2 separate regions of the Homo sapiens genome follow, and region 1 is linked to region 2. Evidence: fine-mapped expression QTL. Tissue or cell type: thyroid. Region 2 holds a variant in brackets; the other region holds the start of a gene. All regions are shown on one strand. Distances are from middle to middle.

The links. PIP is the estimated chance that this variant, and not a neighbour inherited with it, causes the effect.
Region 1: it holds the start of TENT5A, and the variant in region 2 is fine-mapped to the expression of TENT5A in thyroid (GTEx, PIP 0.99).

The regions. Positions count from the first base shown.
Region 1 is chr6:81,748,487-81,756,593 of GRCh38, forward strand. TENT5A (terminal nucleotidyltransferase 5A) reads right to left here and starts at 4,195. Exons shown (of 3, transcript NM_017633.3): 1 at 3,945-4,195; 2 at 3,104-3,692; 3 at 1-1,985. The coding sequence starts at 3,655. The coding sequence ends at 1,209. RefSeq lists enhancers at 3,856-4,356, 5,217-5,266 and a silencer at 4,267-4,396.
Region 2 is chr6:82,012,668-82,020,774 of GRCh38, forward strand. All of the region lies in intron 3 of LINC02542 (long intergenic non-protein coding RNA 2542), which reads right to left. LOC107986617 (a long non-coding RNA gene) reads left to right here and starts at 4,937. Exons shown (of 4, transcript XR_001744231.2): 1 at 4,937-5,375; 2 at 5,471-5,523. RefSeq lists an enhancer at 4,725-5,019. The variant T/C (reference allele first, on the strand shown) is at 3,202.

The DNA.
Region 1 (8,107 bases), 260 kb before region 2:
ATGTGGATTTAATTCATCATTGCAATATGCCCACGTCTCATGTTATCCTGTTGAAAACATAAAAACACACAGTATTTAAACATTTCCTATTTGAGACATTATTCTAGATCATAGTCAATCTACTGTGTATATATACATATAAAATGTATATATAAAATGTATATATACACACACACATATAATTTATACACACATACACATGTACCTATGATAATATCAGATCAACAAATGTTAACTTTATACAAGTATTTGCAAGAAAAAATAGGGCATTTTCTCCACCATTCACAAGCTTATGTTATTTTCTTCTTGAGGCAGTCCCTGATAAAATAAAATAATCATTAAACCATAAAATAATTTTGCCACTTCAAATTTTCAGAAGGCAACAGGCACTTTGATGTATATTGGTGTGTAACAAATATAATCTCTCTTCATATAGTCTACTATATCTCTTCTAATTGGGTATTTTTATCTGTTAAATCTTTGGTCCTTGAGCACACTTTCTTTGTTACAGCTGTTTTTGCTTGCATTTTTACATTTTAAAAATGTGATCTATGCACGCAGCTGGAATTAATGGATTGTGTCATCATAAGTTCTGCTGATTGTTACGAGAACTGCACCAACCTACTACTGTTCATTTGGAGCAAGCCGTTTGTTAGCAAAACAAGATCATTCCACAGAAAGCACTTGCTACAAGCCTCAGACAGTAATCCCAACGTTGGAGTTCCCCTTTTTCCTGTATTGTTACTATTAATATCTGAACTCCTAAACTGATTCACAAGTTGGAGTGAGACCTTTTTTCCTCCGTATTTTCCCTTTTATGAATTCCATCTTAAAAGAAACTTTCCACTTTTTTTTTTCCTATGGCAAAGCTATGGGAGCAGATACAGCAAACCCATATTGTCATCACACATTTCTTCTCTTGTATCAGGAGAACCTGGTTGCTTCTAATGACAGGTCTCTCTTTTTTTGCAGGATAGAATCCAATTGGGTAGGAGAATAAGAGAAGGGAAAAGGATCCTTTCGAGATCATGCTCCCACATCTATTAAAAGATACATAAGCTTTGCCAAACTTAAAACCAGGAGCATATCATCATTGCACAAAACACATCCCTAATAAGGGCTGGATCACTCTTTTTTTTTTCTTTTTTTTTTTTTTCTCTCCTGTCTTGTCTGAAATGGCTTCCCCACAGGACATTTTTAAATGATTCTTAATTGCAGGGTAGCCAAGTGGAGTAGGTCTGTTGCTGGCACGTGAATACTGGCTGAACCTGTGCAATGTAGTAATTGCTAAAGTTGGCATCTGCTACATAGGGGGCTGGCTGGTAATAGCAAGTGACATTAGCCACATTAGGAATGACATTTTGGTCAGCTAACACCCGGATAGCCAGCATGGTGATAAGGTTTAAAGTCTGTCTTCTTTCATGTCCCATCAGGCACACTGTGCTCTCATTTACCACTCCATGAAGGGTCATGAGATACTCATACTTGCGGTCTTCCAATCCCACAAAGTGGTTCTGCAAATAGGACTCCAGTTTTCTCTGCTGCTCTCCAATGTCTGAGAAGTCGATGAAAAACCTGGAACACATATACCTTTGAAGGGTCTTGATTTCATCAGAGGCGGGCCTAAAGCCCCTCACCAAGAGGTTGCAGTACTTAAGCAGGCCTCCCCCTCGGATTTCCTCTGGGTTCCTGGTGGCAATGATCTTGTTACAAAGGTGATCAAAGGCTTCCTGGAAATCGCCATAGACGCTCTCCCCGATTATTGTGGGGTGAAATGTCTCAGTCATTGGGTTCTCTGAACATTCATAAAAGAGCAGAAGAGAGTCTAATTTGATTTGAAAAGAATCTACACTGAATTCAAACTGCCTCCGGAGGGAATCCACAAATTTCAGTTCCACATTTTTGCCACTGTTGTTTGACAGGGATATAAGACTCCATCGGTCAGAGTCATTGCACACTTTAACCATTTTCTGCACATAAGCTTCCTACAATTTAAAAGATAAAACAAAATGAGCAAACCTAGAAAATAATAAATCAATAAATAAATACATCCTCTTCACAGCTGAGAATTATTTTGCTCTTTCCCTTTTGTTTTGTCAAGTTTCAGCCAAACACTACCTACAGGCTTAAACGGTCTTCTGAAAATAGAAAAAAAATACTTTTAACGAGTAGTTTTACTGTCTGGGAAAGGGACTAGAGGTAATAGTTTGAGGCTTTTGGCAGACGTAGCACAGTAGTAAGAGGTTTTGTTGTCATGTCTGACTTTTTAAGTGTTACTTTTTGAAAACGGTCTAATAGGCACAATATTCACACAGTATCCAAACAACATTCAAAAGACTCGGAAGGGCATTCAGCGGTAGGTTAGTCAGCCTCTCGCCCTTGTTCCAAGCCACCCAATTCCTCTCCGCCTGCGGCAATCAATGTTATCAGTATCTTGTGTGTCCCTCCAGGGGCACCCTGCAGTTACAATCAAATATAAACTAAATTATGACATTCCAGGAGCCTGCCTCCTCAGACAATTTTAACTAATCATATAAAACCCGTCTTGAACTAAAGTGGAGGGTGGGGAGGGGGTGCCACTATACCCTTAACATATGAACCAGCACGAAGAACCACCAGATAGACCTTTAACACGTAGTCAGCTGAATGCCGCTGTGAAATCTATTCACCTTTTCCAGTACAATAAAAAACTCATTGACTCACTTCTGCTTCAGGCTGTTATTTTCCCAAAGGCTAGACTCAAATATAATGACTCAAAAATTATTTACATCATTTCATTCTGCCAAGTATCAGAATCTACTCTGGACAAGACTCCAACAGGGAAAGCCAAGAGTTAAAACATAAGGAGAAAGAAGAGAAGAGAGGGCAGAGGAGGACCTGGGAGAAGAGTTGTAGCGCCAAAGCATCAAGTAAACTGAAACACTCAACACCGTCCACGCACGTCAGTTTACTGGTTTAAAAAATCAAAAATCAAAGAAATAACGCGCGCCCAAACTCGTGATGGCCACAGATTCATGGCATTTAACCGATGCCCCTCTGCCCGCTCCCCGTCACACCCGGCCCAGACTGGGTCAGGACCCAAGTGCATCTCGGGTGGTGTTACCTTGAGCGTGAGTGGTGTGATCTTCTCTTTGTTCACCCCCTCGGGTAAGAAGTCCAACAGGCAGTCCAGCACGACGTCCTTCACAGTCTGAAACTCCCCTTCCCCGCGCAGGTCGGCGCAGAAGATGAGGTCCAGGTCCTTGTAGCCCAGGCCGCTGTCCTGGTGCAGGACATGGCTGGCTGCCGAGCCGTTGAGGCGCACGTCGCGGACGCCAATGCGCTTCTCGGCCAGGCGCCGCCGCACCACCTTCACGATCAGGCTCGGCTGCAGCTCGAGCGTGGGGAAGTTGCCGCGCCCGTGAATCGGAATGGTCTCGCTCAGGATGCCGTCCAGCCGCTGCACTTGCTCCCAGTTCAGCACATTGCAGTGCGCCGTAGGGCTTTCGCAATAGTCCAAGCAATGCCCACCGAAGCTGCCGCCACCGCCGAAGTCGCCGCCGCCGAAGTCGCCGCCGCCGAAGTCGCCGCCGCCGAAGTCGCCGCCTAGGGGGATGTAGGGGCTGCAGGCCAGCTCGTCCTCAGACATGGCGAAGTACCCTTCACCCTCCGCCATGTAGTGCCCGCCGAGCGCCACTTGGCCCTGGTCAGTCCTAAAAAGAAAGGGAAAGGAGCGCGGTGAGGACGCGCGGCGGCGGAGAGCACGCGCGGCGGCGGAGAGCAGAGGCCCGCCAGGAAAAGAGCGCCCCCTCCCCCGATAGTTCCCTGACCCCGGGCCTCCTCGGAGACTCCCTCCCCCGGCCCTTACAGTCCCCAGCCGCGCACCGCGCCCCGCAGAGCAGCCCCGCACCAAAAGTATCTCTGATGCATCTGGAAAGCGCAAGCGAGAGTCCCGTCTGTGTCACCTGGAGGCGGCCGCCCCTTCTAGGAGCGCAGCGAGCGAGAGCGAAACCGAGAGGCGGCAACACTTCCAGGAGCTGCGAGCGCGCTCAGACAGCAAATAGCGACTTCGTCTTTCCCAGACCCCTGCCGCCTGCGCTCACCACTCCCTCCCCGCGACCCCTCCTGCGCCGCTGCCACCCCAGCTGCGGTGGTCCCGAACTGGCGGCTCTTGCTGCCACACACGCTCGTGTCTCTGGAGCTTTAGCAGTTGTGCGGGGAAAATGTCTTCAGTACTTTTTTTATACCGGGCTTCTCTGCGCTTCCGGGGCCCAGAGCGGCACGTTCGCCACACCCTCCTCATCTGCATAGGGCGCCGCCCCCTCTGCCCTCCCCCGCCCGCAGGGCACGCAGCTGACTAGCCCAGCAGTTAGTGCGGGACGACTGCCGGTGAGCGTGAGGTCCTGGGCTGTATGTGCGGATACTGTGTGCGCCCGTAGATGCGTGTATTTATACATACATTTAATTTATGTACGCCCCCTCCCACAAATCTCTTTTCATTTTCCCCAGGAGGAGACACTTTAAATGCCCCAGGAATCATAAGTGGTCATCAAAACCAGATCACGACTAAAATCCTGCAACTGCAGAAACTTCCCAAAATTCTCGCGGACTCAGCCCGTCTTTAGATCATCACGGTTGGGCTCCGGAGGTTCCTCACGACCGCTCTTTTAAACCTCGGTTTTTAGGTAGACCATTTACTCCATTGATAAACCCGATCCAAGTGTGGACTCATGAGTCCACTCTTGCACGCAAATCAGTCACGGCGCGTGAGTGGGAAGGGCTTGTTGATAACTGGGTTTCGATTCTCGAAACCTCGGGAAGCGCGCCGGGGAGCTCTGGGCGAGCCCGAGAAGGCGCGGGGGCGGCACCACGGGCCTCGGGCGTGCGCGGCTCCTGCGCACGAGTGGCTCCAAGGGGCCAGTACTTCGCGGGGGTCAGGGCGCGTCACGGAGCAGACGCGGGCGAGCAGCCAATGGCCGAGGACTGGGCGGGCCGAGTGGGCGCAGAGAGCGCGCCCGGGGAGTGCGTGCTGCCCCGGAGTCCAGGGAAAGGGCCGCTAGGTGTCCGGTGCCTTTGCTGCGAGTTCTCTGACAAAATTGGAGGCGGCGAAGCGCGTTCCTCGCGGCCCCCTAAAGTTTGGCCATTTTAAGTGCATCATAGTGTCAGTGGAATACGATTTGGTTTTCCACGAGACGTAAAAGTAGGAGTTTCAAGAATAAAATGAATTCTCTCCTCCAGCTTCGGTGACTTCGGCAGAGCTAATTCTACGCACGCTCACTCGCGCCACCACCACTCTTTGCTAGAAAGCTGTGGCCGTCTCTTCGGCAGCTCGCTGCCTCCATCAACTAACCCGGAGCAGCTTTCCCAGCGCCTAGACGCTGCCGGGGGCTGAGGTGGGGCAGAGGGGAGAATGCCAGGGTCACAGAATACTCCCCAAACCCTGCTCAGCCCTGCCCGCCCAGACTGGGAGGAAAAACAGCCCGCACCTCCTAACTGGGGGAGCCCCGGCCTAGTCACTCAAGCTGCGCGGCTCGGGGGTGAGGGGTAGGGTGCGGGGGTGTCACCCGTGGAGCATCCAGCTGCGTGACAACGCCGCCCCCTCCCGGTGCCCTGCCGAGCTGCGTCCCAAAATGGAGAAATCCGACTGTCTCTGTGGCAGAGGCCATCCCCTCAGCGCTGCGCCTAAGCACTGAGGTGCGCCTGGGGACTCTAGGACAACTACCCTGTCCGCATAGGGCCATCGCTTCCTTCAGAGCACACCCATGTGTTCCTCTGACCAGCCATCGGCGCATGAATCTATCTTAACCAGGCATTTTATACATATATATACATATGCATATTCTTGTGTGAGCATGTGTATAGAGAGAGCATTTAGTGACCTGTTACGTGCCAGGCAACAGGCTAAGTGCTGAAGATTTAAGAATGACATTTCACGTAATCTAGAGGGCATAGCACCTAGGTGCATAATTATGGTTCAGTTGCATATGTATTATGAGAGAAGTATATTCTGACGCAATCGCGTGGCGGGCTAACTACATAGGAAACGGAGAGACACCCGAGAAGGTGTCATTTGGACTGGATCTTGAAAGAATGGATGTTCTTTCAGTAGTCGGGGAAAGAGGAGAAGAGCGTTATCTACAAAGGGAAGCGTATGGAGTTGGAGAATGTTTGAGGAAGGATATGTACACTCCCGTGATTAATAAATGAGATTGGTAGTGCCTTGAGATAAGGTTTATGAGTACCAGGAACTTATTGAACACGTCTGGGCTATAACCTGTTTAGCTCCTTAACATAATACCTAATTTAATCTTCAAGAAGAAGGTATTTCCATCTCCTAGGGATCTAGAAACAGAGGAATCCAAGAAGTTAAGAAACATTCCCAAGTTCCACAACTAATAAGTTGTGGGGTCAGGCCTTTAACCCAACCCATTTGGCTGTGAATGCTGTTTAGTGGTCATTACGGGGTAACGAGTGGTCTGTAGCTTATCAGTACCTTCTTATTGGAAAACAAGACAAGCACAAATAGGAAGAAGGAACGATGGGGAGGGGAGGGAAGGGGAGGGGGAAAAGAAGAAAAGGAAATGGAGGAAGGGAGGGGAAGGGAAGGGAAAAAGAAAAGAAAAGGGGGGGAAGAGAAGAGTAAAGAAGAAAAGAGAAGAGAAAAGAAAAAGAAAAGAAAAAAGACCTGTTAAAAATGTTTCTTTCAAAGACCGGTATGAATTCTGCCCCTTCTTAAAACAAAGCCAAAGTAATAGATCGTATATTAGACACGCTGTACTTTAAAAACCAAGGGTGTGTGCATGTGTGTGTGTTTAGCTCTACTACAATTATTTTGTACTTTATTTTTACCCTTGCTCCAAAAACTGAAAATAAAGAAGACTCTTAGAGCTGATGGACACCTGCCTATGCATACCCAGGATTTCGTTCTGTAGCACCAAAGGAATCTGCATTTTGGCAAGCTGTCATGGTGATCCTGACACAAGGGCCCAGCCACACTTTGCGCTGCACTGAGAACAGCCACCATAGTCCAGTTCTCTAAGTGGGGACCCTCCCCCAAGCAAAGGCTGATCCCATGGCCATTCCCAGAAATGGAGGGCACAACTGAGAGGTGGAAGCACAGCATGAAGCTGGACTTGCAGGGCCCGCTTACGTGCTATATGCTGTGCTGGGGAGAAGAAGATAATCCCAGCAGCAGTGTGCCAAGACCGCCTCTCCCCCAAGCATCCAATGCTTTGTGGCTGACACTTCCTTAAACCTTTAACAAAACATTCCCCCTTTCCCAACCATAATCCAGACCCTACTGCCTCCTGCATTGGGACATCTGGGATATCTTACTTTTGGCAATGCCTTTGTGGGCAATTTAATCTTTGACTGGATTAATATGTGCCTGATACATAGTGACCAATCATTACATACTGTTGAATGAAAGCATATGTTGTTCACTGTCCCACTTTTTCCTGTCTTCAAACTGAAATAATATTTACATTCTAGGAAAAAATATCCATCCTTAAATAAAATTGCATATTCTGCTATTGAAACCATAATTTTTTTCTAGATAACCAAAATAATTATGAAATGAGAACGCCTATACTTTCCAAATACATTCACAACTAAGATATTTCTCAACACAGTTACTCTTAGATTAAATTTAGATGCAAAGTTGCTAAATTTTTCCCCCAGGCTTTAGCTTCTGAACCTATTTGATAAATTATTTACTTTCTCCCACTTAAAAGGAAAAAAAAAAACACCTGTGGCAATATGAAGCTCTTAGTTGATAAAGTTAAGACCACCACAAAACTGAAATACGGACAGCCTAAATTTAAACTGCTTTCTAAGCGAGCAGAAAAAAAGTCCTTATCCTGAAAGTTTTAAAGGAAAGCTTTGCATAGAATTTTGAGAAAGAAACACTTATAATTAGTTCATCTTATTTTTAAAGTTACAGTAACAATCAATCTGGACTTAGCAAAATAAGATGTTCAGCTTCGGCCTTAATGATAGTTATTATTATTGAGTTTGTTATTATATCCCAGAAACTCTGCTAAATATTTTATATACATTATTTTTTCTAAACTTTCTCTAAAAACCAGAGCTGTACACATTATATCTCCATAGGAAAGATAGGGCATAA
Region 2 (8,107 bases):
ACAGAAGTAATTCAGGTTAAATGAGGTCATAAGTGTGGAGCCCTGTTCCAATAGGATTAGTGTCCTTATAAGAGACACCAAGGAGCTCTCTCCCTCTTCACAAGCTCACAAAGAGGTTCTGTGAGTACACAGCCAGAAAGCAGCCACTAAGAGAAGAGGCCTCAGGATAAAACCTACTTTGCCAACATCTTGATCCTGGGCTCCTGAGACTCTCAAAACGTTAGGAATAAAATCTGTTGTTTAAGCCACCCAGGCTGTGGTATTTTGTTATGATAGTTTTAGCAGACCAAAACAGGGCTGTTCACATCTCCACTTACCCATTCATAGTTTCTCTCCAAGGTTGTATTTCCTAGATAACTAGATAAAGAGGATTCCATCACCACACTGGTTCTAATTCTAAATGTTTATCCTACAAATATGATCTTATTTTTATAATCTTATAAAGTTATAGACCCATTATCTGTAAGAAAACTATATACATGTTGCAGAAAAAGGATCAAATACCAAAGAGTCATTTCAGCAAGTAACTAACCTGCCATGTAATCCAACTTTGCCAGCATATGAGAAAGCAGGTTTAATTTGGGAGTAGAGGAATAGAGCCACTAGGAAGGACTGGATCAGGGCCTCTACCAGACACTGTGAAGAATCTTTGTGTGAATTGAAAAAGGCAATCCTTCCTTGAGTTAAAAAAAAAAAGGATAATTTATTATTATACAACCAGACCCAGGGTACATGGTCATTCTGGTGTGGGGAAAATAGGAATGTAGGCAGCCACCCCACTTGGCATCATTAGGTAATCCCAGCCAACAGGGATGATGAGTGGTTATCTCATGTCATTATTTCTCTTGGTCAAAATTAGTCTCATTTTGGGTTCATCATATTGAATGATGATTCTAAAAGGCTCTGTGGAAAGAGAATCTCCTCTACTGCTCATGGAGAATACTATTCATCCTTTCTAGTTACTCCATGCCAAATCAATTCTGGTTCAAGACCAAAGCTAATATTAGAAGAAAAAAAGTTTTCAAGTGTTTGTTTATTTTAAAAGAACAAAATCTACTCTAGGGAATAGTGGAAAGTGTAATCCTTCTTCCCACAGGGGTGTGGTAGGGGGTGTTATGTGAGGCCAGGCCTAAGAGAAAAGACAAGGAAAGGTTGTTTTTTTTCCCTCATTTTCAGACTAGCCATCTGTGACTTAAAAATAAAAAGAAGGAAAGAAAAAGTCTTGGAGAATCTTGGCTTCCCCTTTGCCAATATATTTGAGAGTTCACTTTCTGTTCAGAATGTGAAAGGGACATAATTATTTCCACATCTGACTAATATGCACTTATTTGTGAAGGGCCATAATCCCGTAACCCATCTGGATCAGGGTCTTGGTTGTATTGAAAGTCAAAAAATGAGGGCTGTTTTCATCCTGGCTCCTCTTCTGACTGAGTCACCATGTCCTTGGGCAAGTTATTTCCTCTCTGTGTACCCGCTTTTAAAAACAGAGAGATAATAGTGTTCCTGACCTCCTTACCTCACTGGGATGTTGTCAGCATTAACAAGCAATAGACTCATATTTTTAGAGTAGACAGAAAGAAAATTGCTTAAATTTTAAAATATTATTTTTTTCTTCCCATAGATCTATTTTGTTCATCTTAAAGTTCCAAAATGGATCACAGGGGACAAATCTTTGGAGTCTTTCCAGTTTTCTTAAGAAAAATATGAAGACCAATGACATTAATTTATTTTGGGGGAGTTTTTACAGACAGTAAGTTACCAAACAAATAAAAATCATGGGATGAACTATTAAGAAAAAATAATCACAGTGTAGTAAAAATAGCACTGAATTGAGAGTTGAGAAAAAAAATCTCGGTTCTAGGTTTTGATTACTAACTTATTTAAGTCAAGTTATACTTCTCTAAGCCTCAGTTTACAGATTCAAAAAATGAGAGCCTATGATAATAATAGTTATCAGGTCTAGGGTACTGAATTTAACAAGATTCAAATAATATATGTAAATACTCGTTACAATTATAAAACACTGTGCAAATACTAGATTTTGTTGCTACTGTGAGCATACCAGCCCATCTCTGTGGTTACCACAGCATCACCTCATTGCTTCAAGGACAGTGGTTACACCAATTTACTTGGACATGAAAAGAGTGTCCAGCATGTTCCACATAATTAGAGCTCCTACCCAGCCATTTTTCACTTTGACGGGGAAAAAAAGGAAGGGAAGGGCTGTGTTCCATGTTTAGGACACCCTTTGATTCAGATATAAAATGAGAGCTTTGAGGCTGAGGTGATGGGTCTGTGCTGACTCAGGAAATGAACTGTCTTCTTCCAAGGAGCCTTAAGTTCTACCCATTTCAGGGTGTGTCAGCAGAGACACAGAAAGTCAATATTCCATACAGTAAGGTTTGAAGCACTGCTGATCTACTCAAGGACTGAAGGAAAGGACGGTGGAAGAAGGCTTCCAATATTTTCCAACATTGGATGGCAAGAAAGCAGCTTTGCTAGATGACAGCTACAGTCCCCTCCAACCCTGCAGCTCAATCAGTCTATGAATCAGCAAACCATAAAAATAATTAAGGAAGTACACATAGTCTCCTTGACTCCTTTGTCCTTTTTTTGGTGACACAGCCATTCTGAGTCAGTTCAGAAATAACCTGGGTTTTCAGTTTACCAGAGTCTGTCAACCTTTCTCGGCCACTCCAAGCCATCCTTATAATACTTTGTTCTTTACAGACCACCCCTCTCAATTCTGCCCTTAATGATCTTCTTATATCATTGTATATTTTTCTATCAGGATCTGCCTTAACAACCAGATTGTAAAGTCTTTGGGTGCACAAAGGCATCACACTTCTGGCTTTTCATGGCACTTTGTAATCTTAATTCTCTGAGGTTCATACTTGTTGATGAAATCAATCATTCCAGGGTCACTCTTTGTGTGTTTTTGCCTTTGTTTCACTGGTCCTTGAACATCATGCCCCACGTCACAGCATTTCCTTCTGATGCTTTGTTCTGAATTTCCATTCCTGTTTACGCTGCCACTCCAGAAAACTTAAGTACCATCCAAAGACCATGTTCACAAATGTCTAATGGGAAGTGAGCCATGAGATGCTAGCCATAGTGGGTCTATGTGCTATAAAAAAACTTAAAAAGTACTCAGTGTAGGAAAAATTTCACAACAACCATTCCATGGTGAAAAATAAATAT[T/C]GGCAATAGGCATGAGAGGGAAATAAGAAAAAGAGAGACTCATTTCTCAAAACTGAATGGCAAGTGACAACTGTGCATTACTTTGACTATGCAGTGATTCCAAGAGCAAATGTGGAAGAAAGAACTTCTAGAAGTTTAAATTCTACTCTCATATTTTTGCCCTACCTATTTCTACACTTGATTTACACTCTGCAGAATAGAGAAGATCACTGAGTTCAAAGAACATTCAGTAGTAGGCAGGATTGTGGGTGAAAAGGAAGAGTGGAAAAGAAGGAAAGAGCAGAAACTCTGACCTATTCAGAATACTATGTTCATCTTCCTTTGCACCTACACTGGGAAAATGGTTGTTGAAACACTGAAAGAAGGCAACAATTTCAACACATTGAATGGAATATAGTGGATTAATAGTTCAGTTTTATGTTCCAGTTATTGAGTCAAGAATATTGATGCCCAGGGCTAATGATTACTTTACGGTGAGTACATGGTAAACTGATGGCCCTATGTGTTCACAACTCCCTGTATCCATACCCTTTGCAATATGCCTTTGCATATCCGTCCTTTGCTAGTTGAGGTCTATTTTCATGCTTCTTATGCCTGGGCTCGCTTTTGTGACTTGCTTTGGCCAACAGAATGCAATATGATGGGGTACAATCAAGAAACCTTGCATGCTTTACCTCTCTCTTGTCTCAGAACCCAATTTCTAGCATGAAAATAAGCCTAGGCTAGCCTGCTGGATGAGAAGAAATACACAGTCCCATCCTCCATATCACCCAAACTGATAGCCAGCCATGTGAGTGACACTATTCTATATCAGCCTGTTTCTAACTGACCCAACAGCAGACATAAGATGCATCGTTGAGCTCAGCAGAACTAAGCAAAGATCAGATAAGCAGAACCCAAAACTATCTAGCTAGCCAACAGTCTCATCAGGAATAATAACTGCAACAAAAGATAATTGATACAGAGTCATTCAATCAATAGTTTGGCCAGACACTTTGCCTACTAAGAGAGGCATGTACATAAATCTGGAGATAGCCAGGAGCCTGAGCCAGTAGTTTTCAGAGTTTATACTCCTACCAGGGCTGTTTGGAATCCAGAATAAGTAGTTCCAAAAATAAATTTAAAGCTCCAGAGAACATTTTTAATAATAATGATCTTAGAAGCTAACATACGTGAAATGGTTACTACAAAGCCATAATCTCCTCTAATTTCATCAAATATAAGCTATTATTATCCTATTTTATGGATGAGAAACTGAAAGTAAGAGAAGTTAAGTTGGTAACTAGAGCTGAGATGGAAACCTTGTTGAGTCTGATGCCTAACCCCAGGTTATAAACACTGCACAATAGTGTGTCACTGGAGATGTGGCAGTATTTTCACAGCTGGCAACCAAGGACCAATCTTGGAGGCAACTCTCCTATCTACAGTAGAAATGGTATTTGGGGTAACTATCTAGGCTTATTCAAAGGAACAGGAGGAAAGGGGGCAGCTGGAGAGAAGGTAGTTGCTTAACACCTGACAGATGTTATTACAGCAATAAACAAGCCCAGCAAATCCTCCTTCCCTCTTTAGAACATTTGTCTCCATGGTGAAATAATGCAAAACTGGGCAAGAATCAGTCATAACCTGGGAGAAGGGAGGGCTCAGGGTCACAGAGGCTTAGCAGAGTCCTCTTTGCTGACTCTGACTCATCAATCCCTGAGGAGTTAAGCACTTGCTTAACAGCTCTCCCAGTCATTTCAATAGGCAACAGGAGAAGGGGACAGAGCAAGCAGGAATCTCATGCCATTGTAAAGTTTTTAGATTTGATTTGGGATTTCTCAGTCTCCCCTGTGAGCATTGCAAAATATTTCTGCCCATTCTGGGTATGATTAATCTATCCAATCCACATGAAAATTACCATATTGAGTGCTCCAAAAATATTCTGTGTTGAAGAATCAGTTTATAAGTTAATTCCATTGTATAGAATTAATAATAATTAATTCTACTCTCAAAGGCAACCCTATGATGTAGGTATTAGTATTTTCATTTTAACAGATGAAGAATTTAAAGTTTGGAGAGCGGATAAGCAACTTGCCAAAAATCACAAAGCTGGGCCCCCAGTCAAATCTAGTTTGGCAACCGCCAGAACCCATGCTTTCAACCATTCGCTACTGTCTCTTATGACTACCATGGTAATAGAAATTTTATTTTTAGTATACTAGTAATTTTCTGGAGGTCAGGGACAAGAATAAGATTCAGCTTGAACTCTTGCCTATATTCTCTTTAGAACTTGGAAATGGCACTGAAGATAGAATTCCAAAGATGTCAGCACCTTGACAGGTAAGTCCTGAGCATCTTGAGACTTCATTATCTTCCAAATTATCACATTTCCAGATTCCTTACAGCTAATTTCAACTCTGCCAAAACTGAACAGCAAAACCATCAGACTTTTCTTTAGGTATTTATAGTTTTTTGTTTTTGTTTTTTAATGCACCCAAGACATAGCTCCTAGTTCCTGAATCAACTATGCCAGTGTTTCTCTGAGCCACGCTAAAGGTCTGAGATATGTTCTTACCCAACTAATCTGTTCTCATTTGGGACACAGAAAAAAAGCACATTCCAGGAATAAGGTTGGGTGCATTCAAGTGAAGGATACAAGTCAGGGGCATCCAAGAGACTCAGCACGTTCTGTGGTTATTTTCTTAAACTTACTTGTGTGATGGTGAGTTTTTGTGTGTCGAATGCCTGAGTTACAGGTGGGCAATATGAATGCCAGATCTCTACAAAACTCATCATTTTCTTATCATTTCCTTCTTCTTACCCCTTAACACTTGCAGACAGCGCATGTTTGAAGTTCAAGTTTCCAGCCATCACAAGTGTCATTGCATACGACTATAGCAAAGTGGAGAAGGAATTCATCAAAGTCCTCCAATACAGCCCTCCCCCACGCATGGAGTCTAACGCACTCTTTTAAGGATAAATCTAACTTCTGTTCAAATAGTTCTAATACAGGCAACTCATGAGCTTGCAGGATGAATGATTAATTAATTAATTATTTGAGTGGTTCAATTTACTAGTACAACAGACAGATATTAAAACTTTCTTTATCTGTCAAGCATTGCCCAGTGACGGAGTTAGATGATAAAACATCCTACTCTCAAGAAACTGACAGTCCAACATAAGAAACACAATCAGCCTCCCTTTAGCATGTCACCCCTCTTTCACGGTTCTCTTTTAAGGTGCCACAGAGTAAATTCAGTCCTTTCTCTACTTAACACCCTCAGCTATCTGTTAGGTATCATCTCATGTTTACAATCCTGGATCTTTCAAACTATAACATGGCTTAAGGTTTTGTCCTTCAATGGCTACTAGGATTATCCTAGTAGTTCTCCTCTAGCTCTACCCTAGGTCAATCGCCCTTCTAAAATCAGGAGCCAACTATTGAATTAAACATTTAAGGATGCCGGAAGACCATGGTCTTCCCATATCAATGGCTTCCAAATCAGATTTAAAGCCAAAATTTCAGTTTTAAATACTTATCTCTGGAAATAAATGATTCCTATGAAATGCCCCTAAAACAAACACAATGTGAAGTTCCTATCAGTCAAAGATATTTTTCACAATGAGCTGTAAGTTTTCTACTTTTGACAGAGAAGAACAGGAGAATAGTTTCTAACCAAAGAAAAATAGGAAAGAAAGTCCACTAGTGCTGGAAAATATTTACCTAGGTATTGACTTCATTGATGTAGCATCAATGTTGACCATGCTAAAGACTATGAAAAGAATGCAGGGTTTGTTATTACTATATTTCTAGATATTAATGACCAACATTTAGTCTTTCGTGACTTCTATCAACTGCTTTCTACTTCTTAAATTTTTTTGCGCCTATGATTGCCCCTTCTCTACCAGCTTCATTGGCTTTTTATTCTGTTTAGATATTTTAAATGTTAGCATTCTCTAGTATCTGACTTTCATTTCCATGTTAAGTTTCAAGCCTCTTCATGAGCTTCCCATTGCTTCCATCAGTCTAAAAGCTGGCAACTGTACCCCTCAATCTGTATCTCCAGCCTGGACCTCTCTCCTGGGATCCACAAGTATATTGCCAATTTCCTAACCCACTGTATTGCCTTTGAGCACATCAAATCAATTATTCTCTTTTCCAAATATGTTTCTCCTTCCATATTCATAATCTCTGTTCATTTTGTCACCGTCCACCTTATTAACAAGCTAGCAAATCCTGTCTATTCTACCTCAGGACTATTCCCTGATTGCAGCCTTTCCTTTATAGCTGCAGGTATCACAACTAGAAAATAGCTTATTTTTCTGTTCTTGTTTCTCTCCTGTTTATTCCATCTTCCACATTGCTCCCATAATTATGCTCCTAAAATAAATGAATGAATTGGTATAATCTGAACATACCAATCTCCTTCCTGTAACTGTTTGTGGTGCCTGTCACCTTTACAGAAAATAGTCTAAAATTATTATATAACAAAAATCTCCTTCACTATCTGTCTCCAACTGTACATCTTCTACATAAACCCACTCCCAGACCATTCTCTGCACCTCAGTACACCCACTCTATACACATACAAACTCTGCTTCAGCCACCATGAACTTCTTACTTGATCTTTTTCTTAAACATAACCTATAATGATTTTGTCTTTGACTGTGCTGGTCTGTTTTCCTGAATGCCTATCTCTTTTTCAAGCTGACAAGCTCATATTTGTCCTTCAAAATCCAACCCAAATCTTTTCTCTTCTGGGAGACAATTTCTGACTCATCCAGACAGTAATAAATTTCCTCCTATGCATTGGTGAATTATCAAAAATATTATTGTGCATCAGACACCAGACATGCTAGACACTATGCTGGATAACGGATATACCATGTTTAGTTAGGAAGATAGAAAAGTCCCTACTTTATG